Regions from separate parts of the Homo sapiens genome. Here regions 1, 2 and 3 are each linked to region 4. Evidence: fine-mapped expression QTL. A gene starts in region 4. Each other region holds a variant in brackets. All regions are shown on one strand. Distances are between the middles of the regions. Region 1 overlaps DCAF5 (DDB1 and CUL4 associated factor 5). Region 2 has its middle 30 kb from the start of ACTN1-DT. Region 3 overlaps ACTN1 (actinin alpha 1). Region 4 holds the start of ACTN1-DT (ACTN1 divergent transcript).

Region 1 (8,000 bases), 87 kb after region 4:
TTCAGTGAATGAGAAAAGTGCCAGAGGCCTGGAACTTGTAACATAGATAAACATGTTATCATTTATGAACTTGGGATAAATTCAAAGTTTCCACTGCACTGGTAATGGTATCACATCCATCCAGAACACATGCACATAAATTCTGATCAAGTTCCTTCTGAGCAATCAGACAACTCAGGACACACAGAGAAACATGTGCATTTGGCTAACTGGCAAAATGTGTTGCATCCAGACACAAACAAATGAGTGTTCATTTATCTACTCAAGGGATCCCCTCTTAGTCCCTACCAGGAGCATGGCGCCACTAGGCCACAAAGTATCATTAGACAGTCTCTGCTCCAAGTGCCTCCTTCCACTCCCAACTCCACCTTGTTCAAACACTCATTCCAAATATTTCTCAATGTCTGTGTTTGGAGGGAAAATGACTACAACAATGTCCCTTCCCCAGAAATAATATGGCTCTAGGGGTATCTTCTGCTTTTGGCCCCCTAACACAACTCTTCTTTTGTCTCATGGAAGAGATACCTCCTTATTGCCACGTACATATCTTTTTTATGACAGCAAAAGGTTCCAGACTGCACCCATCTACTCACTCAGCCAGCTTTAGGTGCTCAATCTATTTGATGGGTGACAAAATTTTTCTCCATATTTGACAATAATATTTGAATTGTCCAGAATGGAAAATATATTTATCGTATTCATATCTCAGCCCAACATCAAGTTTGCTAATAAACCATAAAAAAAGAGAGGGACTAGGACACAGGATTAGTGGATTTTTCATGGAGAAAGAGGACAAGGAAAAGTTAGGCACTGATGTAGACTGCCATGGTGGGAACCCCTAGCACTGGCTTCCTAAGGTGGTATGAAAGGGAAGCTGGGCCAGTCAAAATGAAAATAAACTAGAGAGAATTAGGGAAGAGGGATAAATAGGAATCTAAAGAACCCAAAAATAGTTGTCTTGACAGAGAGATCCTACCATCCCCAAAAAGTTCCTTTGGGTCTATTTCTTCTAGATAAGGTTCATTATGACAAGTAGCATTTCTGCTCATGGGTGTCCTCTGAATTTTACTTTTTTAACATCCTACTTCTACCTCTACTCCCACTGGGGTGGTTAAGCAAAGAAACTTTGATTTAAATCTAGTAACAGTCTCTTGTTTAATCCTACTGCCTCAAAAAGAGGGGGGATGTGGGGGGATTTAAGTGACTTATCCCAAGTCATAAAGCTAGAAAATGGCAGAGCCAAGATTTGAACCAGAGTCTGGCTACAATGCCTAATATGCTTTCCACCATATCAGCTGCCTTTGGAAGATGGAAGAGTTTGAATAGGAATGGAGTTAGAAGCTTACATTCAAAAGATTTAGATTTCTAAATCTTTCAGGCAGTTATTAGATAGGTGGTTTTCTTCTGAAGTTCTAAATTAAAAGGAGGGGCACTGTATTCAATGGTATCCTGAGCACAAGCTCTACAGCATTACCATAAGCCATTTCATCACACCACTGACACTGAGTACATGATGAGAATAGAACTGGATCTGTCTTACCTACTCTTGCATACCTAGAACCTGGGGTGCAATGTCCAAAGTCCACCAGGTGCATAAATACTTGCTGAATGCATAGTGTTTGAAAAGAAAGCAATTTTAGAATAAGTATGTCAAAAGAAGACAGCTGGAAGGTCTCATATAAAGAATCAGCTATCATAGAACTAAAGTGCATCAACCAAACCAATCTTTCTGACTTGGAACACAATTAAAGTAACTATCAGATCTAAAGACTAATTGAAGGCTATCAATGCCTGAAAATTCAGACCATGGAAAAACTGTTTCTCTTGCACTTTCATGCAATATGACCTCTTTTTTTTTTTTTTTTTTTGAGACGGAGTCTTGCTCTGTTGCCCAGGCTGGAGTGCAGTGGCTCGATCTCGGCTCACTGCAACCTCCACCTCCCAGGTTCAAGCAATTCTCTGCCTCAGCCTCCTGAGTAGCTGGGATTACAGGCATCCACCACCATGCCCAGCTAATTTTTGTATTTTCAGTAGAGACGGGGTTTCACCATCTTAGCCAGGCTGGCCTTGAACTCCTGACCTCATGATCCACCCGCCTCGGCCTCCCAAAGTGCTGGGATTACAGGCGTGAGCCACCACACCCAGCCCTGATTTTTCTTCTTGGTAGCAATTTTAACACAAGGTCTTTTTTGCCCTTCTTTCCACCCATGCTGGTACCTAGGAAATCTGAAAAAGAAGAGGGAATCAATAAACCCAGAGACTGATGGTGAAAATAGGTACAGGCAGAATTATAGTGGCCATTTGTTTAAGGTAACCAAGACTGTGTACAATCATAGCAATAAATGGCTTCAGAGAGGTTTTTCATAGTTTCTTTCCTGGTTCCCAGGTTTGATATTATTGAATATAGCTGCTACTGAACAGTTTACGTACAATCATTTTTTGAGATTAGTCCTAGAAATTTGTATAAGCCAGATAGCTTCTCCTTTAATTTGAAATAGCTAAAGTCAAAATGCCAATATCAGAAAGAATCTAGGGTCTCCTTTCCTCTGTCATCTAATCAGACCATGCTGGTCAATAGTAGTATCAAATTGGAAGGAGACAGGAAGGGCATATTTTTATCCAAGAACTATATAACCCACATAATCTCCCTTCAGGGTCATCTCTTAAGACTGTGGGTAAGGGCCCAGGTAAGGATCAACTTCACCCCCTGGTTGCTGAACTAAGTCCTGACTGAATCGCTAATAATGGGTACCCATAAATAAAATACCACATACCCAGGAAAAAGGATCTCATTCCTGAGCTGCCATTTGTTTATAAAATTCTGTATAAACCAACAGTCATTTCTCTGGGCCATCTGCTTTGGTTGGCTTAGCCAAATGTGCTGACACTGTTTTTTTTTTTTTTTGAGATGGAGTCTTGCTCTGTTGCCCAGGCTAGAGTGTAGTGGCATGATCTCAGCTCCCTGCAACCTCCTCCTCCTGGGTTCAAGCAATTCTCCTGCCTCAGCCTTCCGACTAGCTGGGATTACAGGCGCACACCACCACGCCCAGCTAATTTTTTTGTATTTTTAGTAGAGATGGGGTTTCACCATGTTGGTTAGGCTGGTCTCCAACTCCTGACCTCATAATCTGCCCGCCTTGGCCTCCCAAAGTGCTGGGATTACAGGCATGAGCCACTGCACCTGGCCAGCTGACACTCCTTTTTAAGTTTAGTTCCTAAGTTGAGGCCAAAGTCCCCATATATTAATCTTTCTTTGATTTAGAAGAGATGGTAGGGGGGTAGGGAAGACTATAACCATATCTATTGCAAGATCTCAGAAAAGAAAATGAGAACAAGGTATCTCACAGAATTTCAGTATCAGTAATCCACTTACTACCGTAGGGGACCCCAGGATCCCAGGGGAAAACACCTTGCTCAAAA[T/C]TCAGATAAAGATCTTTCTAAATGCCAAGGTCAAATGTCTCCCTAGAGAAGACTAAGGGAAATGTGTATGTCCTAATTTCCCTCCCTTCTCTACTTATGGCCCACTTTCATAACATTCAGCCAGGGGTTTATTGCCTCAGGCCTTTGAAGAGCCAGAATACTATTCCCATTTCTAGCCAATTTCAGTTGCTTTTGTTTAGTGTCAAGTTCATTTGCTTCATGAAGTCCTCCAAGAATGAGTACGTTTTTGACTCAAAAGCTGAAAGCAATGTGGTCAAGATTTCTTGATGTCTTGGTCTAATAGCAATTTATCAATCATGCTGGGACACTGTCCTCAATACCACTTCCCGTCTTCCTCTGTTCTACTTTTTCTATAGCACTTCTAACCTTTTAAACATACTACATAATTTACTATGTTTATTGTTCATTGTTTCCCCTGCTAGAACATAAGCTCCATGACAGCAGGGCTTCTGTCTCCACTGTATCCCAAGTCTCTAGAACTGTGCCTAGCACATAGTAAGGTTTTTAATAAATATATGATGAAATGAAAAGATGTGAGTGTATTAGATGGTGGAACACAAGCATGCAGGAAAAAAAAATCTTCACATATGGGCTCCATCACCCAATAAATGTTTCTTTTTTTCCATCTTCCTGCAGCCGATTTCGTATCTTTTTTTTTTTTTTTTTTTTTTTTGAGACAGGGTCTCACTCTGTTCCCCAGGTTGGAATGCAGTGGCATGATTTTAGCTCACTGCAACCCCCCGCTCCCAGGCTCAAGCAATCCTCCTACCTCAGCCTCCCTAGTAGCTGAGACTATAGGGACATGGCACCACACCTGGCTAATTTTTTGTACTTTTTGTAGAGATGGGGTTTTGCCATGTTGCCCAGGCTGGTCTCAAACTCTTGGGCTCAAACAATCCTCCTGCCTTGGCCCCCGGAAGTGCTGGGATTACAGGTGTGAGCCACCTAATCCAGCCCAGATATTCTTTTTTTTTTAAGATGGAGTCTCACCAGGCTGGAGTGCAGTGGCGTGATCTCGGCTCACTGCAACCTTCACCTCCCCAGTTCAAGCGATTCTCCTGCCTCAGCCTCCCGAGTAGCTGGGACTACTGGCACGCACCACCAAGCCCAGCTAATTTTTGTATTTTTAGTAGAGATGGGGTTTCGCCATGTTAGCCAGCATGGTCTCAATCTCTTGACCTCGTGATCTGCCCACCTTGGCCTCCCAAAGTGCTGGGATTACAGTCCTGAGCCACTGCACCTGGCCCAGATATTCTTTTACAGCATTTTTACTATAATGTAGTTAAGCAGGAGCAGAGAAATAAAGGGGCTGAAATCCTATCTATCCTTCAGGGTCCTTTGAAATGCTAACTGCAGGAAAACTTTACCAATCTTCCCAAATCTCTTCAAGACCTCCTTCATTATCTTTTTTATGGGCCTCAGAAGCCACTTTTACATCGAGTGCATATGTCTGTGTGTGTGCCCATGCACATCCTTTTTTCATCTCTGTTATATTGGAAGCTCTCTGAAGGCAAAAAATGTTCATTTTTCAGTGGCCCATAGAGCTTTACATGATGTCTTATCTAAGGATACTCAATAAGTGAACAAATTGAAGTTAAAGCCCTCATCATCCTCTCTGGAATAAAGCTTGAAGTTAAAGTTATCTGCTAAAATGAGGTTTGGTAAGTAGATTTAAGACAATCTATTTCATTCTTGACCCCACTGGTAGAATTAAGAGTTTACTGCAAGGGCCAGATGTGGTGGCTCATGCCTGTAATCCCAGCACTTTGGGAGGCCGAGGCAGGAGGATCACCTGAGGTCGGGAGTTCGAGACCAGCCTGACCAACATGGAGAAACCCTGTCTCTACTAAAAATACAAAATTAGCTGGGCATGCTGGCACATGCCCGTAATCCCAGCTACTCAGGAGGCTGAGGCAGGAAAATAGCTTGAACCTAGGAGACAGAAGTTGCGGTGAGCCGAGATCATGCCATTGCACTCCAGCCTGGACAATAAGAATGAAACTCCATCTCAAAAAAAAAAAAAAAAAAAGTTTACTGCAAGGCATAGACTATTTCTTTTCCTGGTACATCTAAAAAAGGTATCCAAGCCTCTTAGCATTTCAAAAAGGCCCAAGTGAACAGTTGCAGGGTCTTCCAGTGTCAAACCATAAAGAGGACCATCAAGGATACTGACAATACGGACAGAGCAGTGACTGCCTCCTGGAGACCACATAACTACTTAAGAAATGAGAAAAGCCAGATGGGGACAGCCAATGCTGTCAGTACAGCTCAAAGAGCTCCACAGGCATCAATGCTTAGTTGCACAAAAAAGTCAGTTATGCTGAGTTCTTCTTTCATCATATGTGCCTCACATGTGTTTATAACCAACTACTTGCAACCAATTAAAAACAGCTGTTTTTTCCAGTTACATGGGAGGAAAAAGCAGATACCTAGGCCTAAGTCACTGAGAGTGAATACATGTCTAGAAAAAGAAGACAGAGCACACAAACATATGCAGGCCCAAAAAAATGCATTTACAGCTGTTTCCAGCCTACTTCATCAGCCTACTGCCAGTGGGGGTGGTTACAGTGACTCGGCAGTAAAAATACATGTTTTTCCCTTCCATTCAGGGAAAAATTTGTCACATAAGAGAACCCTCCTGAACTACTGATGAGTCAAGGGCAGCCTTCATGCAAGAACAACTCAATCAGCCATTCCAGGTGGGTAGCAAGGAAGGACAATGTCTTGATCTCTAAGGAGTTATTAAAAGGTGAGTTTAAAAAGGGAGAAGGCCTTCTTTTTCTTCTTTTGTAGACACGGAGTCTCATTCTGTTGCTGAAGTGTGCAGCCTCAAATTCCTGGGCTCAAGCAATAGTCCTGCTCAGCCTCCTGAGCAACTGGGACTACAGGCATATGCCACCATGCCCAGTTTTCTTTCTGTTCTCTTTCTTTCTTTCGTTCTTTTCTTCTTTCTTTTTATTATTATTATTAGAGACACAGTCTTGCTGTGTTGCTCAGGCTGGTCTCAAACTCATGGGTTCAACTGATCTTCCCGCCTCAGCCTCCCAAAGTGCCAGGATTACAGGTACGAGCCATTGTGCCTAGCAGCAGTTAGTTTTAAAAAAAAAGTTTGTGAAGACAGGTTCCCACTATGTTGCTCAGGATGGTCTCAAACTCCTGAGGCATCAAGCGATCCTCCCACCTCAGCCTCCCAAAGTGCTGGGATTACAGGCATGTGCCACTGTGCCCAGCCGAGAAGGCTTTCTTAGTGAGGAATAACAGTCGTTGAGTAGCTACTAAGTACTCTCACAATAATCCTAAGAAAGTATTATTGTTGTTGGTGGTGGTATTATCCTTATTTCACAGGAGTTTGGTAAGATTAGGAAATTTTTCCAAAGCCCCCAGTTGGAAGATAAATGGATCAGGAATTTAAAGCCATTCCTAACAACTCTATCACATTATGCTTCTTTCCATAAATAAGAAGGTCTTAGAGTAAGAGGTAGCTCTGGAAAAGCAACTCAACCTGTGAAAACCCTAAAGCCCTTTCTAACAAGAATTCAGGGAAAGAGAAGGGAAAGGCAATATAAATATTTTCAAGAGACACCTACCAACCTTTCCCACACATTGCCAAATCCATTACTTTCATACCTAACTTACTAGGGAAAAAATGCTTTGGAAATGATGGATCTACATCGATCTTACTATACATAGCAATAACAATGTCTTGTATTTGAATACACATTGTTTTCAGAAAGCTTCCAAGATTATTAAATCAACACACAATATAAGGCAGAGGTAGGAGACATTTTATGTAAGAAACTGACGCTCAGACAAATACTATTATGTAACTTGCTAAGAATCAGACATGTAGTTAGTGGTAGTTAAGTTCAAGTTAGAGGACTTGAATCCAGGTATGATTTTAAGTCTAATGCTCCTTTCAATATGTAACACTGGCTCTATATGTAACTGCTGGTCTACTTATTTTATTTTCAGAATTACCACATAAAAACAGATGCCCTTCCTACCTACTTTAGAGGTCTTAGACATATTCCAATGGACTTCTTCTCTGCCACAGCAAAATTCCCAGTTCTAGTTCTATTCCTTCCTCTAATTTTTATTTTTCTTTTTTTTTTTTTGTTTTTCTTTTTTGAGACGGAGTCTCCTCTGTCACCCAGGCTGGAGTGCAGCGGTGCAATCTCGGCTCAGTGCAACCTCTCCCTCCCGGGTTCAAGCGTTTCTTCTGCCACAGCCTCCCGAGTAGCTGGGATGATGGGTGTGCACCACTACACCTGGCTAATTTTTGAATTTTTAGTAAAGACAGTGTTTCACTATGTTAGCCAGATTGGTCTCAAACTCCTGACTTCAAGTGATCTGCCCCCCTCAGCCTCCCAAAGTGCCGGGATTATAGGCATGAGCCACTGCACCCGGCCCCTTCCTTTAATTTTTAAAGGGATTTTTAGAATGAGTTGTTTGAAATTACTAAAAAATTGGACCTGATCTTCCCTGGTAGCAAGTTTTATAGTGGATATAGGTCTTACATCTTGAAATGATCTCCTCAGCCCACTAGGAAGTCCTATTGG
Region 2 (8,205 bases), 29 kb after region 4:
TAATAGATTGATAGATATAGATAGATACTGCTCCTGTCCTTTCCATTCGCCCCCTTGAAATTCTACCCTCAGAAATTCACCTTTAAGGAATGAGAGGAATGTAGCTGCCTCTTCCAAGAGACCTCCCAGCCTCACCTTCCCTAGCCCAGATTGGTCTCTCCCTCAGCTGAGATTCATCTTCATCCTCCCGGCCCTCAGCCCTTGCCTCCTCCAGCTCCTGGCCATCCTCTCATCCCAAGGGTACGTCCTTCGGCAGCTGGGCTCATTTATTCCTCACACTGGTTTCTTCTAAGTAGGGAAGTTTCTAAACCTTTCTGTGAAAAAAGAAAGAAATCCTGCAGGGAAAGGGGTTCAAACAGGTTGTACAACCCATCCCCAGAGTCTGATTCACTTGGTGTGGGCGTGTGCCTGAACTCTGTATATTAAGCAAACACCCTGGTCTTACACCGAAGACCCTCTGCTGACCTTATGAAAGAGACTGTGTAAGAAATGCAGATGCCTGGGCCTCACCCCAGAGATCCTGATTCCACTGCCTCTTCCTTGCCTTGTGGCTTCACCCACTTCCAAACCCCCTGATTCTGGTGTGCTGCCAGGGATGAGAGCCACGGACTTACCGGGTGCTCAGGGAATAAGCATTGACCTGAATGAAGCTGCTGGGTTGACACAGGCATCCTTCCGGGAGGGGTGAGTCATTCAGCCATGCTGCCAGCTGTGAACAATTCAGTCTGGGGAAATACAAAGAGACGTGGTCCCTCTCAGAGTTTCCATTCCCACATGGAAAGCTGGTGCTGGGAAGTGGCTGGGCAGCCAGGCTGGGCGCTGGGAGGAGTGCAGGGTGAGGATGAGAGAAGGGCTGTACCCACACTATGCTAGGCCGACTCCAGGCACTGGCTGTGTCCAGCTGGTTCAATCTTTCCAGCAAACCTGCGAGGAGGGATGTCATAGGTGAGGAAACCAGGTCTGCAGAGTTGAGGTGTCTGGTCTTGAACCCACGTGTGTCCTAACCATGACATGGTCCTCCTCCAGGAACTGTGCGGGGGCAGAAAGAGGGCTCAGGGATCCAGCCTCAGGCATTGGCCTCAAGGGATACGGTGGCAGGGGTGTCTTAGAAGCCTGCTGACCAAGGGTTAGGATCTCTCCATCAATTGGTGGCTGAGGGTGAATCCCACCACCTCCGCCCTCCACCCATCCTCTGTGTCTCATTCCACCTACTCTGGCCTTATCACCCCTGCCAGACTGTGAGATCCAGTGGAGGGGCCAGGCCAGGCCCCTTATCCACATTTATTGCTCACCCCCACCTCCCCAGTTCGGGGCAGGCCCTCAGCAAATCAAGTGCTAGGGCTGTGAGTAGCGGGAGAGTTCTGAGGGGACCCAGGGACTGCAAAGTTAGAGGCAGCCCGGGGTTGGAGAGGCAGCATAGAAAAGCCAGTGGTCCAGAACACAACCTGCCCAGCCTCGCTGAGTGGCCCTGGGCTGGCCACTTCACCTGCCTGTGCCTCAGTGTTCTCATCTGTAAATGGAGAGATTCATTGCACCTCACTCATAGCATTGCTGTGAGAAACAAATGAGGTAAAGTACGCAAGGCGCCTGCTACGTCACAATAAGTACATTATTGAAATACTGTTTGAACCCTGGCTATCATTATTGTCACCATTATGTTGTTACTATTATTGGTGCCTATTTCCCAGTTTGGCTCTGGGCAAGCAGTTACAGGCACCAGTTACGGACCTTGGACTTTGAGGTGGGCTCCTGTCCTGGACTTTTCTGGTCTTCTTTCCAGTCGTGGGGATGGTCAGGCCAGGTGACATTTACAGTCAAGGACCTTGGTGGATGTGGGATTTGGAACCCACTAAGCCAGTGGCGCTCAGCCTTGGATGCCTGTTAAAATCACCTAGGGAACTTCAGAAAATCCTGATTTCCCATTAAATAAAAATCTCTGGGGGTAGGACTCAAGCATCAGGATTTTGTAAAGCTTCCCAGGAGAGTCCAGCAAGCAGTCAAAGTTGGGAACCAGGGCTCCAAGAGAATTTCTCATTCACAGGAAAGAAAATCCTTTGGCAGCAGGAGACTGGGCTTGGGAGTTAGAGGAGTTTAGCCCTTGACCTATCAGCTACAGGACCTTGGGTAAGTTACTTACGATCACTCAGACTCAATTTCCTCATTTACAAAGTGGGGGATGGTACCCACCTAGCAGTTAATGAATAGCATTAAACTAAAGAGGGTGTCCGACACAATAGGCATTTAATATATATTATTATTATAGTCCTTAATGGGTTATCCTTCTAATATGTCCAAGGAGATATTACAACACACACACACACACACACACACACACACAAATCAGTGTTCAAATTCTGTTTCCAGGCCAGGCGCGGTGCCTCACACCTATAATTCCAGCACTTTGGGAGGCGGCCAAAGCGGGCGGATCACCTGAAGTCAGGAGTTCGAGACCAGCCTGGCCAACATAGTGAAACCCTGTCTCTACTAAAAATACAAAAATTAGCCAGATGTGGTTACAGGTGCCTGTAATCCCAGCTACTCTAGAGGCTAAGGCAGGAGAATCACTTGAACCTAGGAGGCAGAGGTTGCAGTGAGCCAAGATTGAGCCACTGCACTCCAGCCTGGGTATCGGAGCAAGACTTCATCTCAAAAAAATAAAAATAAAACCACAGTGCTGTGGCTGTTCTGGTGGAAGGGCTGACCTGGTACTTTGGGAAGTGGCAAGAGGCCACACCCACAGAACCTGCCTGCCATCCTGGGCCAGGACTACTGTCTGAGGTGAGGGTGGGAGCTGAATTGCAGGGAAACTATCATTCAAGCTTTTGCCTTAACAGACAAATTATGGTGATGGCTACCTTTCCTGAGTTGCCACCATATAGCAAGCATATTACATATTCTCTTGTTAAATTCTCCCAACATCCCTAAGATTTAGGTATTAATGCCCCTAGAGGGAGTATCTTTGTTCATTATTCAAAAATATTTATTGAGGGGCCAGGTGCAGCGGCTCACATCTGTAATCCCAGCACTTTGGAGGCCAAGGCAAGAGGATCAGTTGAGCCCAGCAGTTCGAGACCAGCTTGGGCAACATAGTGAGACACTGTCTATATATATATATATATATATATATATATATATATATATATATATCCCTTGCCATGTGCTTGGTCCTTTTTAGAAGCTGGGAATTCAGCAAAGTCAACAAAGCCCCTGCCTCATGGGGTTTATGGTCTAGTGGAGAGGACTATATTCCTTGAATAATCACAGGTCAATGCAGCAGAAGGTTTTTGGCAACATGCCAGATTGCACTGTTTCAGACAGCCCCTCTCTCATTACTATAAAAATGCTGTATAAAATACAAGAAAAACACTTGAACATACAAAGCTGAGCTCAAGAGAAAGGAAAACCCCAGATTCCAGAAATAGTTCCAAGAACTCAAAGCCAGAAAATGGAGTGAGAGCTAAGCCTCCGGTTTGTGAGGTTTTGACTAGATATAGGCCCTAAGGCCTAGAGCCCAGAGTTCTAAAGCCCCTTCAAAAACAGGAGGCAGCCCCAGGCTGTTTGAGGCAGGAGAGTTGGAACTGATCCAGCTGAATACAGCTTGGAGCCTTGAGGAGTATCCCAGTCACAGAAAAGAAAGGCTGGAAAAACTACCAACTGGGCCTGCAGAAGGAGCAACAGTTTTCTCACTGTAGAAGTCTTGGGTGGGAGAAAAGTTCACGTGAAAGATGGAAAGGCCAGGCCTCCCTCACTTGGAGGAGAGAGATGGACTGCTCCCGCCTCATCCCCTGCTTTGGCATGCCACTGGTCCCAGGATTCCTATGCCAAAAAGTTAATCTAAAAGTTAGTCCAGAGGCCGGGTGCGGTGGCTTACGCCTGTAATCCCAGCACTTCGGGTAGCTGAGGCAGGCGGATCATTTAAGGCCAGAAGTTCGAGATCAGTCTGGCCAACATGGTGAAACCCCTTTTCTACTAAAAGTACAAAAATTAGCCAAAGGTAGTGGTGTGCCCCTGTAATCCCAGTTACTCGGGAGGCTGAGGCAAGGAGAATCAACCTCACCCAGGAGGTGGAGGTTGCAGTGAGCCAAGACCATGCCACTGCACTCTGGCCTGGATGACCGGAGACTCTGTCTCAAAAAAAAAAAAAAAAAAAAAAAAAAAAAAGTTAGTCCAGAACCTAGGGCCCTGACAGAAGCAAAACCCAAGGTACTCTGTACATTTTCACAACCCAGCCTCACAGGCATTCCACAGCAAAAACAACCTTCCACTGGAAATGAGTTTCCCAATTGAAAATTACAAATCACACAGGGAAACAAACCACCATAAGAGATAATCAGTAAATACAAAACCAAAGCCAAACCAAACCAAACCAATCAGAATTCATCCCCTAAGAAGCAGGAGTAGTAGAGAAACCTGAAGTTATAAAATAAATAGGTTAAATAATTCTAGAGAATTTTTAAATAGAAAAGAAATAATAATAAGAAACAAGATAATATTAAAAAATGTTGGGAAACAAATCAAAC[A/G]AAGTTCTAGAAATGAAAAATACAGCTTTAAAAATTATTTAGGGCTGGGTGCAGTAGCTCATGACTGTAATTTTACCCAGCACTTTGGGAGGCCAAGGTGGGCAGATCACTTGAGGTCAGGAATTTGAAACCAGCCTGGCCAACATGGTGAAACCCCTCTCTACTAAAAAAATACAAAAAAATTAGCCAGGCATGGTAATCCCAGCTACTCTGGAGGCTGAGGCAGGAGAATTGCTTGAACCCGGGAGGCGGAGGTTGCGGTGAGCCAAGATTGCCCCATTGTACTCCAGCCCAGGCGACAAGAGCAAGACTCCGTCTCAAAAAAAAAAAAAAAAAAGGATTATTTATTAAAATTAATGGATTAAACAGCAGAACAAGATGGAGCTAAAGACACGCTTAGCAAACTGGGTGATGCCTCTGAAAAAAATCACCCTCTCAGCAGCACAGCAAGAACAGTATGGAAGCAATTGTGGCTAAGAGACATAGAGGGAAAAATGAGATCAAAGAAGAAATGAGGAAGGAGCAATATTTAAAGAGAAAATGGCTGAGAATTGATCAAAACTAAAGAAACACCTAAATCTTCAGTTTAAATAAGCATCTGAAGACTTAAGAATACATAACACAAATTCACACCTTAGGAATGTTAAAAGGTAAACTGAAGCACATTAAAATGTTAAAGAGTTTATTTGAGCAAATAGCAACTCATGAATTGGGCATCTCTAAAACAGAGGGTTTTATAGGGTGATTTTAAAATAGACTTTTTTTGTTTGTTTGTTTGTTTGAGATGAAGTCTCCCTCTGTTGCCCAGGCTGCAGTGCAGTGGAACAATCTCAGCTCACTGCAACCTCCACCTCCCAAGTTCAAGTGATTCTCATGCCTCAGCCTCCCAAGTAGCTGGGATTGCAGGCGCCAGCCACCACACCTGGCCAATTTTTGTATTTTTGGTAGAGACAGGGTTTCAGCATGTTAACCAAGCTGGTTTCAAACTCCTGACCTCAGGTGATCTGCCTGCCTCAGCCTCCCAAAGTGCTGGGATTACAGGCATGAGTCACTGCACCCAGCCCTAAAACAGAGACTTCAAAGCAGGCTTGGGGCTCTGCCAATGGGGTACAAGGGGAAGGCTTTTATAGGGTGAATGCAGAAGAGAGCAAAAAAATTATTTGACTGGTTAATGTTTGAGCAATTGCCTTATTCAGACTATCCTATGGGAATTTCGAGATGATATAATATACACCCAGTTGGCCACCTGTGATTGGCTGAACTTAAGTTTCATTTTCTTGTTCTTTTCTTTTTTTTTGTTTTGTTTTGTTTGGTTTTTGAGACAGGATCTCACTCTGTTACCCAGGCTAGAGTGCAGTGGCACGATCACAGCTCACTGCAACCTTCGCCTCTTGGGCTCAAGTGATCCTCCCACCTCAGCCTTCTGAGTAGCTGGGACTACAGGTGCACACCACCATGCCTGGGTAATTTTTTTTATTTTTTGTAGAGCCAGGGTTTTGCCATGTTACCCAGGCTGATCTTGAACTCCTGGGCTCAACCATCTGCCTGCCTCAGACTCCCAAAGTGCTGGAATTATAGGTGTGAGCCACCACACCTGGACGGTTTTATTTTATTTTTAATTTTTTTTATCTTTTTAAACATTTTCATTATTTTATTTTTTGAGTAAGGGTCTCACTCTGTTACCCAGGCTGGAGTGCAGTGGTGAGATCGTGGCTTACTGTAGCCTTGACTTCCTGGACTCCAGCGACCCTCCTGCCTCAGCCCCCCAAATGGCTGGAACCACAGGCATGCACCACCATGCCCAGCTAATTTTTGTATTTTTGGTAGAGGTGGGGTTCTACCATGTTGCCCAGGCTGGTCTCAAACTCCTGAGCTCAAGTGATCCACCCACCTCAGCCTCCCAAGGTGTAGGTGTGAGCCACTGCACTGGGCCAATTTTCTCTTTAATTTTGAATTAGGATTCAGTTTACTTACATAAGAACCTAGGACTTTAAAACCACCTCAGTCTAATGACCTTCTACTTAATTATTTTAATGGAAGCTCAGTGGAAAATCGGGAGAACAACAAAGATAAACAGATAAATAGTACAAAGTGCCATAGTTCTATGAAGAAGGGAACACAGCCCCCAGAATAGCATGTAAGTAAGGACGGGGGAGCAGATGAGGTGCCCATCTTCCCCAGAAGCCAGGGAAGGTGTGATGGTTAGTTCTACCTGTCACCTTGGCTAGACTGTGGTACCTAGTGGTTTGGTCAAATACTAGCCTAGTGGTTCGGTCAAATACTAGCCTAGATGGTGCTATGAAGGTATTCTTTATATGCGGTTAAATTTTTTTTTTTTTTTTTGAGGAGTCTAGCTCTGTCACCCAGGCTGGAGTGCAGTGGTAGAATCTCTTCTCACTATAACCTCCGCCTCCCAGGTTCAGGTGATCCTCCTGCCTCAGCCTCCCGAGTAGCTGGGACTACAGGCATGTGCCACCATGCCCAGCTAATTTTTGTATTTTCAGTAGAGACAGAGTTTTACCATGTTGGCCAGGCTGGTCTTGAACTCGTGACCTCAAGTGATCTGCCTGCCTCAGCCTCCCAAAGTGCTGGGATTACAGGTGTGAGCCATCGTGCCTGGGCTATATGTGGTTAACTTTTACAGTCAGTAGGCTTTCAGTAAAGCAGATTACCCTCCATGATGTGGGTGGGCCTCATTCAATCAGTTGAAGGGCTTAAGAACACAGGCTGAGGTTTCAGAAGAAATTCTGCCTCAAGATTGCAACATCAAACCCTTGCCTGGGTTTCCAGCCTGCTGCCCTGTGGATTTTGAGCTCAAGATTGCAACTTCACTCTTAGCTGAATTTCCAGTCTGCCGACCTGCCCAATAGATTTGGGACTTGCCAGCCCCCACAATCACATGAGCCAATTCCTTAAAATCAAAATCTCAATCTCTCTCTCTTCATATATATATTTAGGCAACCAGGCTGATGAGGCTGTGAGTGAGGCCTGAAGGCTGAGGAGGTGTTAAGTATACACAGAGGAAGGGAAGGGGGAAAGCTCTGTAGAGAGAAGTAATGGCTCATGTCCAGGCAATGAGTCTGGAGGTAGAGCATGCAGAGCCTTGAAAGAATTGGAGGCTTTTCCCCAGGAGCAAGTGGAAGCCTGGTGGGGTTTTAAGTGGGGTATGTCCACAGTGCCAGCCGTGCCAGGGCTCGGGTTCTAACCCATGTCTCCTTGGCCCCAAGTCCATGCCCTGTCCCAGCACCACCCACCTCCCTCCTAAACCAGTGGAATATTTGCTGTTATTTGTTGGTCCAGCTTATATTCTGCCCTTCCTTTGAAAGCAGGGCCCAGCTTTGATTTTTAGGGGGAATCCTTCTCTCCTTGTGCACAGTCTTGCTGGGGCTGTCATTCCAGCTTCCTCCCCTGGGACTCTGAGTTCTGAGCAGAAAGACCCAAAGATGGAATAAGCAAGTGTGGGGGGCAGCAGCTGCTATGAGAGTGGTGTGAAGCTCCTAGTTGACAGGTTTGTCTCCATTACATGCATACATACATACACACACACACACACACACACACACACACACACACACACACACATATATATGTATTTTTTTTTTGAGATGGAGTCTCACTCACTCTGTTGCCCAGGCTGGAGTGCAGTGGCATGATCTTAGCTCACCGTATCCTCCACCTCCTGGGT
Region 3 (8,000 bases), 88 kb before region 4:
AACAGAAGTAATTTAAAATGTTCAAGATATTAAATGCAGGACTGACTCCATATTGCCATTTAATATGCTTTGTATTATAGGATATAAAAACTAACCCCCCCATCTATGGAATGTTAAGCTGACACCCGAGACAGTCAAAGCCTCCCATAATTCAATATCCCACACTATTTTCTGGTTGTACCAAAAAATAAACAATCAGCAAATGATTTCACCTCTTAAAAAAAAGCATTTACACTTAAAAAATGGGATGAGGTGGGATACCCTCCTTCTTAAAAATGTTTCTAGAGCTACTAAAAAGCTTGCATTTACAAAATAGTTGATAAAAAATATTCCTCTGGATTGTACAAGAAGGGAGACAGGGACCACTGATAAGACATGGTATATGGTATTAATCAGACTCGGCTTCTTTCTCTCCTGCTTCATCAGAGGCTGGACTCTCCTCACTTTTCATTTCCCCGTTTTCTGCAGGTAAATCTTTAGTTTCTTAGTTAGCCACTTCGGCCTGTTTTCCCTTTGCTCCCTTTTTCCCTTTTGTTTGCACTTTTTTGTCTGAAGATTTATCCTTCACTGCTGCGTTTTTCGGCTTCGCTTCCACTTTTGCAGGAGGTTTAACTGACAACCGCGCCGATCTCCTCTTGGGCTTTTCCTTGGCGGCTCCTTCAGCAGAGCTGACCTTCCCCTTGGGCATCCTGGCGGCAGGGAGGGCGCGTGCCAGGTGTCTGCGGGCCGCGGCATGCTGACAGCCTTTGCGAAACTGTGCTGCCTGGCCGCTGCCACTCCTCACGCCCAGGATAGATTCTTTAGACAGTCTCAAGAAATGGAATTCCCAGGTCAGAGTGTAGTAAAATTGGTAGAACTGAATACATGTGGCCAAACTGCTTTCCCCAGAGGCTGTGCCAGCATGCCAGCACTTCTCATGCCCCTGCTGGTGGCTGGCAAGGCAACGAGGTCAATCTTTGCTTTGTACCTTGGCTGTGAGCTGGACCCGACAGAAGCATGTGATGAATCAGTGCAATCCCCACTGTGCCTCCTCCACTCTGCCCGTCACGTCTGGATAAATAACTCCATACACGCACAGTGGATGTGGGGGCAGCAACCTCTTACCATTGTGTGCAAAGCCCAGCATTTGTACTTACAAAGGGGAACTAGAGCCAACCCCCCTTAGCCAGTCAAGCACACTCCCATCCCCTACACCAGGGGTCCCCACCCCCTGGGCCATAGACTGGTACTGGTCCGTGGCCTGTTAGGAACTGGGCTAAATAGCAGGAGGTGAGCCAGCAGGTGGGAGAGCATTACCACCTGAGCTCCGCCTCCTGTTGTGTCAGGGGCGGCACTGGATTCTCACAGGAGCTCAAATCCTATTGTGAACTGCGCATGCGAGGGATCTAGGTTGTGTGCTCCTTATGAGAATCTAATGCCTGATGATCTGAAGTAGAACAGTCATCCTGAAAGCATCTGCCTCCTCCCCACTGCATGGAAAAACTGTCTTCCACGAAACTGGTCCCCGGTACCAACAAGGCTGGGGACCGCTGCCCTACACCAAGCCAAGCCACTCCCAAATGGCCTTGGGGTATGGTTCTTCCTTCTCATCTCCAACCTAAGATCTGAGGAGTACAAAACAGGGCTGACTGGGGGAGTCTTAGGGCATTGAGCTCCGCCGGCCAATAGGTCTGTCCCACGCTCCAGCTGAAATGGCCGGAGGGGCCCCAGCAGATAGGCAGCCTGTTCCCCACCTCCAGCCCTGGTCCAGGTTCTGGGGAAAATACTATCCTAGGTATGATCCTCTCTCTTCAGAGTTCACCTTAGCTGCCAATAAGCAGACACCAGACACGCCCCCAAGAGCCTCAAGGTTGGAGCAACAGGGACACACATGTGCTAAGGCAAAGGCTGGTTCACTGTAATTGGAGGCCAGGAAATAGAGGAAAAAGAGCTGAAGAGATGAAAACCACAAGCATGCAATGTACTATAATATTTAAGCCTCACAACAACCCATGAGGAGACTGAATTAGGTTGAATGGGGTCCCCCATAAAACTCATGTCAACCCAGAACCTCAAGATAGAACCTTATTTGGAAACAGGCTCTTTGCAGACATAATTCCTTAAGATGACATTATACGGCTGGGCACAGTGGCTCACGCCTGTAATCCCAACACTTCAGGAGGCAGAAGCAGATGGATCACCTGAGATCAGGAGTTCAAAACCAGCCCGACCAACATGGTGAAACTAAAAATACAAAAATCAGCTGGGAATGGTGGCAGGCACCTGTAGTCCCAGCTACTAGGGAGGCTAGGGCAGGAGAATCACTTGAACCCACGAAGTGGAGGTTGCAGTGAGCTGAGATTTCACCATTGCATTCGATCCTGGCAACAAGAACACAATTCCATCTCAAAAAAAAACCCCCATAAAACTAAAAAACAAAGTGAACACTCGGGGTAGAGGATTTGACTGCAAAGTGAACACTCACACAGCACTGCACTATGCAGGAACTCTCCTCAGAACTTCGTTATGTATTAACTGATTCAATTCTTACAAGCCTGTGAGGTTGGTACTATTATTATTCCCACTTTACAGATGAGGAAGCTGAGGCGACCAGAAGGCTAATGAACTTGCCTAAAGCCATGGAACTAGTAAGAGACCAAATGAAACAAATGAAAAGCAAAGAATAGCATAGTGGCTGCTGGCTGGGCTGAAGAGTAGGGAAGTGAAGCCCTGGGGGGAGGCAGGAGGCTGGGCTGGCCTCACCGTCAGTCCAGGCCTCGTGGATGGAGGCCTTCTGCCGGAACTTCTCTGCCAGGTGGTCCAGTCGCTCCAGCCTCCGGATCTCATTCAGCAACCACTCCTCATAGCCCTTCTCCACCTGCTCCAGGCAGCCCCAGGCATTGTTGATGTCCTGTGGGGATGGGAGGTACAGGGTCAGGGTCTGGCTTGGGCCTAGGCTTCAGGTCCCCTAGCCCCCTAGACCCCTGAAGGTGCCCCATGCCTTCCAGGAAGAGCCTCTTCCCTATCTCTGCCCCATATCCACCCTAGCCAGGCTGCCCCACCATACCTCCCATCTCCCACTGGTATTTTCTGGGCTCCCAGGAGCCAGGCCTCCTGGGCAAGGCATGGGACCTGCATCTACATTGGTCACCCAGCTATGGGACTTTGAGAACAGAGCCCTGTGGGGAAAGGGCCCCAGACTCTCCCTGACTAGGACTGGTTTCCCGCAGGACTCTAACCGATCACAGAGGTCACACATGTGCTAAGGCAAAGGGCCCCCGAGGTAAACAGACCAACAATGTGCAATGAGGCAAGCAGGCACTGGAGCTGCCCAGCCTCCCCACTGTCCTGGATCCATTCATGGACTCAGGCCTCTGGGCAATAACCTGGAGCCTACAGAGACCCCGGCCTGGGTGAGCCGGCCAGAATTCTGGGAGGACAGATGCTGAGTGCAAACCCACACGCCCCTTCAGACAGGGCCATGCCTCCAGTTTGTGCAACAGTGCCCAGCTGGACAGTCACTGGGGCTGCACCCTGCAAGCCACCCTCCCCACATGTCCCCAGGCCAAGCTACATCTGTCCCCCAGAAAGGGTACTTTGTCTAATTCTCATAGAGCACCCTTAGGCTAGCAGTGGCTCTGGCCACCTAAAAGCTACTGATTCAGCCTTGGAGCCCCGAAATGACTGCAATTTTCCAAACTGCATACCCACTTGCAATGTATTCTCCCTCCATGACCCCCTGGGCTGCCGTCTCCCCACGATGCTGTCTGCCTTTCACCCTCCCCTTCTAGACCTGTCATGTGCCCATGACACTCCTGTTACTTTTCACTTAAGGACAAAAAGCT[G/C]CGTCATGGCAAATTTCTTACATTTTCTTCTGTGTGTTTCTCTGGCTTATGAAATTTTTCCCTAAGTTGTGGGGACAGGGTCAAGAAGGATGAATAACAAAAATAACCTAAAAGAAGAGTATTTTATGACATGGAAAGCTGGTCAGAATATAATGTAAGATTGGGGGTTTTCCTAAAGCAGCTTATTATATAAAACAGGCTTTAGTTATCTGTCAGGGGACACTTGAGTACAGAAACCGGGAAAAAATGTTTAATTTCAAATACATATACTTTAGGATTCCCTCAAATATTTACACGAAAAAACCAAAAGGATTAAAATCATTTTTTTTAAAGTTGATACTGGGTAGTAAGATTTTCAGTAATTTCCATGTTCTGTATTTTGCTTATTTGTATCTTTGAAATATACTACCCAAAAAAACCCACAAAACTATTACTTCAATAATAATATTTTTTAACTACTTAAGATTCCATGGAAGTAGAAATCAACTTGACTGCGATTCAATTATGCCCTGTTTGGTTCAGGGTGTCAAAAGCATTGTGTTCATAGGGATGATTTTTTGTGAGAGGGAGGTCTGGAGTAGATGCTCAGGGGTCTGGAAGGGCAAGCCTGACCCAGAATGGTCTGGGCAGAGGGGGCTGCCCCACATGGCCGAGTTTGGGATTGAGCCTGGGTGGTAACTGGAAGGGGGAAGTGACTTCTGGAGCAGTGTATGTAGGTAGAAGCAAACACGCCCATCCGCACCCCCATAAAGCTGAATTTGACCACAACTAGGAGCAGCTCAGAGGTGGAGGCAGTCCAGTCTGGGGGCCCAGGCTCACCCCCAGTGCTCACCGAGACCATCCTGCCCTCAGAGGGCATGAAGGCAGGCCGGTTGCTGAGCCGCAGCTTGGTCTGCAGCGTGTTGAAGTTGATCTCCAGCTGGCACTTCTCCTGCACCTTGGGCGGCTTGTGCAGGCGCCGGTAGTCCCGGAAGTCCTCCAGCTTCTGTTGCATGGCATGCATGGTGTTCTCGGGCACCCGGTTCTCCAGCCACGGGATTGTGCGGCGGATCCACTCCAACAGCTAGGGTGGGAAGGCGGTGGGGGCAGGAGGTGAGGAGGCGGGGAGGGAGTGTGCTAGGGCCAGCCTCCCTTTCCTCCCAACAGCCCTCCCACATGGGGAAGGGGTCTCTCCTAATAGCACACTCCTTCCCAACCACTGACATTCCCAGGCCATGAAGTCAGCTTCCAGGGTGTTCCCTCTGAGAACCACAGGCTTCGTGAAGCCTGGCTACTAGGGTACATCGACTCACAGTCACGTCACTCAACCTCCCTGCTTTGCTAAGGGAAGACCCATAGACCTGGTGTGAAGTTAGTGCAACTAAAAGGCAGGAAGGAAGCCTGGGTTTTAGTACCAGGTTCTAACTGGCTGGGCCTCAGTTTCCTCATCTATACCATGGAGGGGGTTAACAGCTATTTCCAGAAGTTCTTGCCATCTGACTTCCTAAGAATCTAGAATGTGGGTCTCTGACTTAAAAGGGAAGAGGCTGGCTTCTGGGCAGAGAGCTGGCCTGGAGCACAAGCAGGCACGGCCTGGACTGTTTTCCTTGGGCCAAGGTGATGGTGGTGGAGAAGGTGGAGGGGTGCACATGACAATAGGAATACACTGAACACCTGCAGGGGGCCAGGCACATCACACACATGGACTCATCTGAATCACCACAGAAACACTACAAAGCTAAGGGCTGTGATCACCTGCATGTTACAGAGGAGACAACCGAGGCCCTACCAGGTCCTGTAACTTGCCAAGGTGACCTGGCTGGAATGGCAGAAATTTAAACCCAGGCACTTGGGCTCCAGAACCTGCGTTCTTACTATGCTGGGCAGCAGATCCACCAAGAGGCTGGGCTGAGCAGCTCAACGGGCTGAATTCTTTCAAGAAGAGGAGGCTTAACCTAAATGTAGCCAATGGCAGAACAGGAAACCCAGCACTGTGCCATCCTGTTCCCTGAACAGTAGGGGACAGCCGCTACTTTTGGTAGCTGTTATGCTAGCCTGAGCCGGCACTAATTTACCGAAAACCCTACCCTCACCCTCTTAGAACCAGATGTGCTCCTTTTCTCACTGAAGCAAAACTCACAGACTAAGAGTACACTAGGCTGGAAAGGCTTTGACATCCCCTGGCTCAACTCTCACTTGACAAGTGAAAAAAACAAGAAGACTCTGAGAGGCAAAGGGATATCCTAGGCTCATGATAACTCAGGGACTGGCCTCTGCCCCCACCTCACTACTTTCTGGGAGAGCCACAACAGAGCTCAGGCTGCCCTGGACTAGCAGTATTGGGATCAGAGACTATACAAGCCTGAGACTATGCTCCAAGGAAAGACTTGGAGGTACACGTTCTAGGGGACTGACTCTTGCTAGAGTCAGGCCAGGTGAACCCGGGGGTACCCACATCACTGGCCAGCTTCTCGTAGTCTTCCATAAGCTGCTCGTTCTCCTGGTTGACGGCCAACACCTTGCAGATGCGATTGGCTGCTGTCTCCGCCTGGCAACAAGACAGAGAGAGTCACGACCAGCCAGCCCCAGCAGCAGGGGCACCTGGTACACACCTGTGCTGACAAAGCCCCTCCCATCCCTGCAGCTCCCTGTGGTTGGAAGGGAGTTAAGAAGGCTGTGAGGTCACATTCCTCCTCTCTCCTTACCATCCTCCTTGCCAGCCCATGGCCAGGTCCCATGGGTCAAGTGAGCCTGGACAGAGGTCTTGGTGGCTGAACTGGGCCCCTGGAGAACAGCCTGAGTTTAAGGCCCAACCTGCAGGTTGGGAAGAAACTAATCCAATGACTGATATAATCAAAATACTCAGGTCAGGTGGAGAGGTGAGAAAATTCATGCCCATCCTGGAATTCCAAGTGGAGGCACTGGAACTGCAAGGCTTAGGACCTCTGGCTGGATTTTCCAGGGTCTTGGAGATGTGGGAATTCAAATCCGGGAGTCCTGGGATAAAGTGCTGACTGAGAAATCATGGGACCTCTTGGGATCCCTGCAGAATCTCCCAAGGCTCTTGGCCCAAAGCCTGAAGCACTTTAGAGAAAACTGACGGACATTCTACTGCACCCAAGTCCAGACTTCCGGATCAACCAAGTATGGGCTCAATGCCCAGCAAACCCAGCACAGGCCTCTTCCAGACAGCTAAGCACACATCATGCGCTGCGTGCTGGGCTAGCAGGGACCCAAGATGGCCTCAGCAGCAAAGGGAAGGAAAGGGGACTGAATGGCAATCCCAGGCAAAGACTAAGAAACCTTAGTGGGAGAGCGCCTTCTGCAGCTGTGGGGGCTACTGTACCCCTAACACCAGCAGGGACCCAGCATTCCTGAGTCCACTTCAAATAGGTGGTTTTAAAATCCAGCTGTGTTCTTGCATACATTCCAACCCTACACCAAGGGGGAAGTGAACTCAAAGCCTTTTGGGGGCCAGAGGGTAGAAAGGAAGACAGCCTGGGGGTGGGAGAAGATGATATCTGTGAGAAGACAGACATGCATCCTGAGACCCTGGAGAAGGGTGCCCTGCAGATGAAAAATGATCCCTGGATTAACAGGTTGAAAGACAGGACCTCACAACTGGTTGATGAACAAGACAAAACAGGTTTCAACTGCAGCAAGATGAACTGAGGCTGGTTGTAAGGAAGAGCTTCCTGAGAATGAACGTGCTTAGAATTGGAAGGAATGACTAAGATGGAAGACGGAAATGTTTTTTCCTTGAAGAACTTCTCGAATCCGCCCACCAAATCATGTGCTTTGTGGATGGATGACTATGCTGGGGTGTGTGGGGCAGGGGGTAAGGGGCAGAATGAGATCATCCTAAAGGCCTTGTCAGAAACACAGTCAAGGAGGTCAAGGGAGGCATGACCTGCAGAGCAAGGTGTCAGAATGGGTTGGGAGAACCAATAAGGAGAAGGTGGGAATGGCCAGAGGGTGGTCTAAGAGTCCCCTGAGGTGGGGACTTTGAGTCCTGGGCCTCAAGAAACTGAGACAGGGAGTCACATCCTTAGGCCCTCACCCCCTGACCCCAACTCAACCCTGTCCTGGAGATGCCATGACTGCTTCTCACCCACAACTCCTGACTGATCGCCATCTCTCTCGAGAACCAACAAGCACCCACGGGGAATCCCAAGAAGCAACGAAGAGGGAAATGCT
Region 4 (8,168 bases):
AAAGTAGAGGAAATGCCTCTAATCCACGTGCTCTGTCTGGAAGATAACTGCATTTTGTGTCTGGAGGCATGGCGACCAGCCCATGAACTCCGTACCGAAGCATTCTTTGAAAGAGGGACAAGCCTCGGCCAAGCCAGTGCAGCTTCTTGAGTCATGCCTCCTGCCTGCACAGACTTCTCCCTGCCTCCACATCAGGCCATACTTTCACCAAGGAAGCACTTCTCAATGCATCATTTAACCTGATTCCCCAGAAGAGTCCTGAGGGCTCCACGGGCAGAAATGTGTCCCATTTACAGAGGAGGAAACCTAATGGAAATGCCACAAGAACGGGAACTTGGTCTGTCTTGCTCAGTGCCCCATCCCTAATACCTGGAACTGTGTCTGACCCAGAATGAGTGCTCACAAAGTATTTGCTGAATGACCTAATAAAAGCTCGATGAAATGGAAAGACTTGCCCAAAGTCTCAGAAATAGCTATGGCTGCACCAAAGCTAAAAAGAGGGTCTTCTGCCTTCTACCGGGTGACCTTTGTATCCCTCTACACTGTGTCCTCCTCTTCCCCTCCTCACACTCACTCCCCTGCCTCCCTCTGGAACCATCAGCCTCTGTCCACTTGTGGACTCTGGTCCCACACAAACCCCGCCTCCCAGTCAGTAGAAAGAGTGTCAAAAGCAACACGTTTACCTTACGTCTTATCCCTCACCTGTAATACCACCTCCTTAATATCACCCTACTGAGAACTAGGCAGGCCAGAAATTCTGCAGACTGAGGCCCACGAAAGATAATCTAGAGAATTAACAGGAAACAAACAAACAAAAAATGTGGATCTGAATCTTCAGAGTCAGGCCCAGAGCTCCTTCTGCCATGGCCCCTCCATCAACCCCGCCCAAAGCACGTGTCGGCTCTCCTGGTTCCCAGATGCTCTGGCTCTGGCTGCGAGGCCCAGCTTTCCTGCCTCCCTTGCCAAGGAGGGACAAGTGAGGGGAAGCTGCCAGTCCCAAACATGGCTGCATCCCAGCCCCACCAAACACAGTCTGGACTTGGAGCTGGTTACTTCCCCTCTCTGGCCCTGGTTTCCTAGTCCTTGTTCGTGCCTGGCACATATCAGCAAATGCCAGTTCTTGGCACTGTTGAGTTTGCCTCCAGGATAACCCAGTTTCCCAGACCACCTCTTCCTACCTGGCTGCCCAAAGGCCTGGGGCACACCCACTGCCACCCAGGTCAGAGCCCTGGGAATCTATATTCTTCTCCCCACTGCGTTTAATATATTCATTCATTCAGAAATATTAAATACGATGTTCAGGCCGGTGCTCAGTGTCTGTCCCCTAGGAACTTGGTCTCACAGTCCTTTCAGGGGCCTAGTTCCTAGGCAGCTCTGTTACTCCTGCCCCTCCCAGGCACAAAGCAGGTGCTCCCTAAGCAGGGATTTCTCCTTCGATTCTAACCCCCAGGGAAGACCCCAATCCACCACCCTAATCTCACTTCTAATTTAAAATCCATTCTCAAGAAGGCTTCACCCTGAAATTATTAAAGAGCCTTCTGCCTGGTGCCCCATAGGGATCTCCAAATTACTCACTCACTTTTCAGTTCCACCCACAGCACCCATGGTCCCAGGAAATAAGCCAAGTGAGTGGGGGACTGTCTGCAGCCCCCAGTCTTCAGCTCTTACTAGGAAGATGACAGGAAGAGGGGGAGTTTAAGCAACTGGCACATTACAAAGAAGTCAGTTCGAAGTCAGGGGACCTTCCCATGTCCGATGTAGATGACCGATGTCGCTGTATAGGGCCCAGCCCTGCATAGGCCTTGGGCACCGCGGCCCAGGTCATCCTGCTTTGAGGAAGCCCATTGTGTGTGTTTTAGATTACCTCTGCCTGTCTGATGAAGTGAGTAAAAGGGCTCCGTTTCAGGGCCTAGGATTCCTGAGTGAGCTAATACAGGATGCCTTTGGCTGAAAAAAAAAACTTCAGTCGGCTCTATAAACTACCCCCCTTTTAAGTTTAAAAAAGGGAATGAATGTTACCATTTTTGGACATGAGCGTTCTCCCTCAAGCCCAGCCCTAACCGCACTATCCAAAGGGACGCGCCATCCTGTCCCCCCCCCACCCAAAACCCCATTCCCAGATCAGCCTGGGGGTGGGGAGGGTATGAAACGGGGAGGGACCGGATGGAAGTGGGCAGCCGGGAGGAGGGGGAGGGAAAGGGGTATTCAGGGTACGTGGCCGCCTGGGGGCACAGGCTCACCGCGCAGGCAGGAAGCAGCGGTAGGGTTGAGGCGCCCTCCCCCCACCACCACGAGTGGTTTCTGACCTCTTCCTGCCACTGGCCACTGTGCCCGGGTCCCATCGCCAGCTCCGAGCCCAGCTCCCGTGGCGGGGCGCGCACCCGGCACACCGCGCCTGCCTGGGATGCAGCTCCGTGGCTAAGTAGGGATCCCCAGTGACTGGCCCCAAATATCCCCTAAGACTGACCCTCGTTCTGCAGCCCCTCAACTCGAACCGAGCTGCCCACCTTTCCCGGGGGTCGGAGGGGCAGGACGTAGCGCAAGCCCATGTCGGGGTTACAGCTTCCAACCCACTGAGTTAAGCAATAAAACGGTCTGCTGTCCTGACCCCGCCCCCACAGGGCCCGCGGGGGAGCCCGCGTACGCCCCCCAGTTTTCTCGTCCCCAGCCGCACTCCAGCTGGTCCTTCTCCAGGCAGATCCGGAGGCGGCCGCCGATCTCTCCGGCGCTCTCCCCTCCGCCTAAGGGGCAGCAGGGTCCCGGGAGGCCCGCCGCTCAGGTTGAACCCAGGGCGGCCCAGGAAGCGGCGCTGCCACCGCACGCCATATGGAGAGGTGGCCAGGGGCGGAAGAAAAGGGAAAATCGATCCGGAGCAAGCAGCCCCGAGCCGGGGTCTCAGCCCCAGCCTGAAGACCACCGCCCCCGAGCACAGCCCACGCGGGGATGGTTGCAACAGCCGCAGGGTGGCCTGGACCACGGACCCCCAAGGAGACCTGCCCGCCAGCGGCGCCACCTCCCCGCGCTCCGGCCCGGCGTTCCCGGGCTCCGGGGCAGGGGCGCTCCCGCTTCCGCCAGGCGCCTGTAACCCAACACCCCACCTCGCAACGGCCGCACCGCCCCCGCCCCCTCCCGTGCGCGCCCGGAACCGGTTCAGAGCCCGGAGCCGAGAGCCCGGCAGGCAGAGCGGGTCGGGGCTGGGGGCTGGGGGCTGGGGGCTGCAGCGGGCGGGGGCGGCTGCTAACCTTTCTCTGCTGCTTCTCCCAGGCCGGGTCCAGGAGCAGGTCCCGGTCCCAGTCCTCTTCTGGCTGCATGTAATCGTTGGTTTGCTGAGAATCATAATGGTCCATGATGGTGCGCGCGTGCTAGGGTCTGGATTTCTTCCTCCACCTTCTCTCTGAGCAACGGCTGCTGCCCTGGCGTGGGGAGGGAGTAGGGCTGGGCTGGGCTGGGCTGGCGGGGCCGGGCTCGCTCCCCTGCGCCCGGTTCCGCCGCGGCGCTGCTGGCGAAGGCTGCTACTGGCGGCGACAGCGGCGGCTGGGCTCGCGGACTGCCTGCCTCTGGGCGGGCGCTTGGACCTAATCTCCACGCACACTGAACTAGGCGGACACACTAGCGCTGCGGGAGCCGAGGCGGGCGGGGGCGGGGGGAAGGGGCAGAGCCCTCCCGAGGCTCTCCATTGGCCAGGCCGAGTTGCCCAAACTTCCCCCCATCGCCTCTCATTGGGAATTCCTGGCATCCGTCAGCCGGGCTGCGGCGCATATAGGTGGACTGGGCGGCCCCCTCCCGGCGCGCACACCCCCGCCCACTCCCGCGGTGCCCGTTCCCCCGCGGCTCATGTGACGCCAGCTTAAGCTGAACGGGACCGAAGCCGGGAGACGCCTCCCCGAGCTCGGGGACTGAGTGGCAGCGCGCTTGGGAACCCCAGGAGCCGCCGGGATTGGACCCGTTCCCCGCCACCGTTATTGCGCTCCCACGCGCGCTCCAAACCCCGGGGTGGGAGGGGGCTGGAGAAAGGACGCGAGGAAACCCGAAGAACATTCATTTTCTCTTTCCCAGGGAACCTGGGTCTGGGCAGGTCGGCACCCTAGGAAAGGGGGCGGAGTGGGGCAATGGAAAGGAATTTCTTGGGAATTTCACGACTCCACCGCCGCCCCCCCCGGCCCCGCCCCACCCCACCCCACCCTACAAGGCGCGACCCGGCTGATCCCTGCCCTGCAGGAACCCGGTTTCTCGCCAGCGAACTGCTCTCAGAGGCTACCGAGCGTTCCCGCCTCGCCGCAGGAACTCTTCTAGCTCGCCCTCGGGCTCTGGGGACCGCTCCACAGCGGGGCCTCCCGGAATTCCCTGCCGGTCTCCGCGGGCACACTTGGCTGGCTGCTGCGACCAAAACTACCTTCGCGTGGCAGGGTCCTCCCTCCTCCTCACAGACACCCCGACATCACCCTCAAAACTGGAAGGGACAACCCCGAGTGATCTAGGTAAATCTACTCCGTACCCCCCTCCCACATACACACGCCTGACAGATGGGGAAACTGAGGCTCAAAGAGCCGAGCGCGGAAAGAGCTTCTGGACTTCACAGGCCAATCCGGTAACCTTATGCCTGACAAACAAAACCTTATTGTCATTGGAGGAGGATGGAGGGCGGGAGTGACTAAATAGCTCTAACTTCTGCTTGCCACCTGCCAGGACTCCTTTCCCTGGGCTTAGTAAGAGGAGAGTCTAAACGCGCTAATGCCCGGGAAGGAGCAGGCCTCGCGTTCTGGCAGGCTCCTCTATGGGATCCCGGTTCCGAAGAACAGTAGCAAATAAACCTCTCCTAGGTTATGCACTGTCTTGTGAACAACAGATGTGCCAGTCTTCCACCCCAGCACCCAGCACATAGTAGAGCTTAATTTATGGATTTGAGGCTGGCCACGGTGGCGGTGGCTCACACCTGTAATCCCAGCACTTTGAGAGGCTGAGGCGGGCAGATCGCTTGAGCCCAGGAGTTGGAGACCAGCCTGGCCAACGTGGCAAAACCCCGTCCTTACTAAAAATACAAAAATCAGCCGGGCATGGTGGTACACGCCTGTAGTCCCAGCTACTTGGGAAGCTGAGGCGGGAGACTCCCTTGAGCCTGGGAGGTCGAGGTTGCAGTGAGGTGCATTTTCACCATTGCACTCCGGCCTGGGTGACAAAACAAGACTGTCTCAAAATATATACATACATATATGCATTTGGCCCTTTATATCCACAGGCTTCAGAACCCGCAGATACCCAGGCTGACTGTGAGGGACTTGAGCATCCTCAGATTTTGGTATCCATGGGGATGCTGAAACCAATACCCTGCCAATACTAAGGGAGGACTGTATTTGTAGGATGAATGGCTGCATCAACTGCAAAAATTTAAATTTAAATTTAAATTTAAAATGCAAATATGTCAATTCAGAAGTGAGTGAAGGAGTTAGAAGAAGAAGTTCACTGACAGGAAGGGCCCTGAATTATGGGCTGGATTTTGTCCTCTACCTTCTCTCCAGGCGATGGTGGATACCTGAAAGCCACCCATGGAAAAGGTGAAGAAAGTGCCCCCTGGTTCTCAGAAGAGCCACTGCTGCTGTTGTGAGCAGATATCGGATGGTGTCTCTGGCTGCATCATTCGTCAACCACACATATTCATATGAGTGTTACCCTCCAGCACTGTGCCTTCCAAAAGCCCCTGGCTGAGGAAGCACTGCTTCTGAGCCACAGAGACAGCTGATTTATGGACCATTTTATCACCGCTTCTAAACTGTGGCTCTAAACCTAACACAGAGGGTAATGGTAGTGCTGTATCCATTCATTCACCCAATAAATATTTGCTGAGCACCATCTGCATATCAGGGAATGTACTAGATGTATACAGAGATGAAAAAGCCATAGTCCCTGTCGCACACAGCCCAGCAGACAGACACAGAAACAAAAATATGATGTCATGAGTTAGACGCAAGGAGAGAGATCTGACAAGTGTACTGTTGGAACAGATGAGGGGCACTGAACCCCGTGGGAAAGGAGGCTCCAGGCTTAACTTTTTGGAGGAGGTGAAACTTAAGTGAACGTTAAAGAATGAGAGTCAGCCAGATAAAGAGTGTGGGAAGTTACTCCAGAAGGAAGGACCAGCACAAGCTAATGCACAAGGACAGGAAACTGCATGGTATACAAAGGAATGTCTAGCATCTCAACGTGGCTGGACTAGAAATCCAAGGCCGGGAGGGGCAAGAGACGGGGCTAGAGAGGTGCAAAGCAGCCAGACCATGAAGGCCTCATGTGCCAGGTGGAGTGTGGATCTAAGGGGAGCAAGGCTGGCTGGAAGCTTTGACACCAGTTGCAAAGCTGTTGCAATAATCCAGGTCGAAATGGAAAAGTGTGGATAGACCAGAAATACTTAGGGGATAAAACTGAAAGACCTAGGAGTCTGGAGAAAAGATAAGTGTTTTTGTTGAGAGATCCCATGCACTTTACCTATATTAAGTTCCTCCTATGAGGTGTTTCTCTGTCTTACAGAGAAAACAAACTGAGGCTCAGAGAGGTAGTAACTAGTCCAAAATGGCACCAGTACATGTGACTCCCAGACCTGTGCCTTTAACCCCAGTGGTTCTCAACTCTAGGATATTTTAACAGCTCCCCCTCACAAGGGATATTTGTTGATGTCTGGAGTCATTTTGGGTTATCACAGCTGGTGGGTTCCTACTGGCATCCAGTGGATGCAGGTTGGGAATGCTGCTAAACGTTCTACAATGGATAGGACAGCATCCCCACAACAAAGAATTATCCAGGCCAGGCATGATGGCTCATGCCTGTAATCCCAACACTTTGGGAAGCTGAGGCAGGTGGATCGCTTGAGGTCAGGGGTTCGAGACCAGCCTGGGCAAGGTGGCGAAAACCCGTCTTTACCAAAAATACAAAAATTAGCTGGCCATGGTGGTGTGAATCTGTATTCTCAGCTACTTGGGGGGCTGAGGCAGGAGGATTGCTTGAGCCCAGGAGGTCAGGGCTGCAGTGAGCCATGATTGCACCATTGCATTCCAGCCTGGGTGACAGAGCAACACTCTGTCCAGAAAAAAAAAAAAGAAAGAAAGAAAGAATTAACCAGCCAAATATGAAAGAAAGAAAGAATTAACCAGCCCAAAATATCAAGAGTGCTGAGGTTGAGCAATCCTGCTTTAATCATGAGTTTATAGTTTAGATGATCTGGGGAATGGTGGCACTATGACCAATTAAGATAGAACAGAAAAGGAAAATATTTAGGAACAGAATCATGGATTGAGTTTGAACACATTGAATTTGGAGTGCTCTTAGAATGTCCAGATTCCATAGACCAGCAGGCAGTTTGACTGCATAGCCCTGACCTCAGGCAAAACAGAGTTGAGAGTCATCTGCATATGGATGATATTAACACCAGGAGACCACCCATGAAGAATGCCCAGGTGGACATGAGAAGAGGGCAGAACCCTGGAGAACAACACTTAGAAAGGGACAGCAAAGAACAAGAACCCCTGAAGGAGACAAAGAAAATGGTCATCCAGGAACGAGGAGGGCCTGGAGTATATGACGTTGAGGAGGTCAAAGGAGTAAGGTTTCAAAGTAAGAGGAATTGGCAATATCAGATATATTCAAAAAGTCTGGAAAATAAGGCCTAAACAGTGTTCTTGGATATGACAGTTGAAAATTCACTGGTGACCTTGGCCAATGGAATTTTGGCAGAGTGGCAAAAGCTGTAAGTTTAAAGAGACATTAGGAGTGAATAAATGGAGACTGAATATAGAGGGGAAAAAGAAGTAGCTAAAGGGGCAATAGCTAGACGCAAGTACTGAGATCAAAGGAAGATTTCTTTTAAAACTGGAAAATGTGAGCTGTTTGAAAAGAAGAATTCAGTTAAGAGGAAAAAGTTGAAAATGTAAGCTAAAGAAAGTTAAGGGAGCCAGGTGGAGTGGCTCACGCCTGTAATCCCAGAACTTTGGACGGCCAAGGCAGGTGGATCGCTTGAACTCAGGAGTTCGAAACCAGCCTGGGTGACATGGTAAAAACCTATCTCTACCAAAAATACTAAAAATTAGCCGGGCGTGGTGGAGTGCACCTGTGGTCCCAGCTACTTGGAAGACTGAGGTGGGAAGATTGCTAGAGCCTGGGAAGTCTAGGCTGCAATGAGCCAC

What was found. PIP is the estimated chance that this variant, and not a neighbour inherited with it, causes the effect.
Region 1: its variant is fine-mapped to the expression of ACTN1-DT in breast (GTEx, PIP above 0.99).
Region 2: its variant is fine-mapped to the expression of ACTN1-DT in whole blood (INTERVAL, PIP above 0.99).
Region 3: its variant is fine-mapped to the expression of ACTN1-DT in sigmoid colon (GTEx, PIP 0.96).

What each region holds. Positions count from the first base shown.
Region 1 is chr14:69,063,248-69,071,247 of GRCh38, forward strand. The region is part of intron 7 of DCAF5 (DDB1 and CUL4 associated factor 5); the gene reads right to left. Among named protein-coding and RNA genes, the nearest start is that of DCAF5, 86 kb to the right of the region's middle. RefSeq lists enhancers at 3,373-3,422, 3,513-3,612. The variant T/C (reference allele first, on the strand shown) is at 3,421.
Region 2 is chr14:69,005,191-69,013,395 of GRCh38, forward strand. No RefSeq gene overlaps it. Among named protein-coding and RNA genes, the nearest start is that of ACTN1-DT, 30 kb to the left of the region's middle. RefSeq lists an enhancer at 1-878. The variant A/G (reference allele first, on the strand shown) is at 4,521.
Region 3 is chr14:68,887,397-68,895,396 of GRCh38, forward strand. It overlaps ACTN1 (actinin alpha 1), which reads right to left. Exons shown (of 22, transcript NM_001130004.2): 9 at 6,259-6,351; 10 at 4,657-4,887; 11 at 2,743-2,890. It also overlaps the pseudogene HMGN1P3. Among named protein-coding and RNA genes, the nearest start is that of ACTN1, 88 kb to the right of the region's middle. RefSeq lists an enhancer at 3,118-3,618. The variant G/C (reference allele first, on the strand shown) is at 3,825.
Region 4 is chr14:68,975,710-68,983,877 of GRCh38, forward strand. ACTN1-DT (ACTN1 divergent transcript) reads left to right here and starts at 3,973. Exons shown (of 4, transcript NR_073422.1): 1 at 3,973-4,075; 2 at 4,219-4,478. ACTN1 (actinin alpha 1) reads right to left here and starts at 3,593. Exons shown (of 22, transcript NM_001130004.2): 1 at 3,243-3,593. The coding sequence starts at 3,347. RefSeq lists enhancers at 2,461-3,460, 3,461-4,459 and a silencer at 3,601-3,650.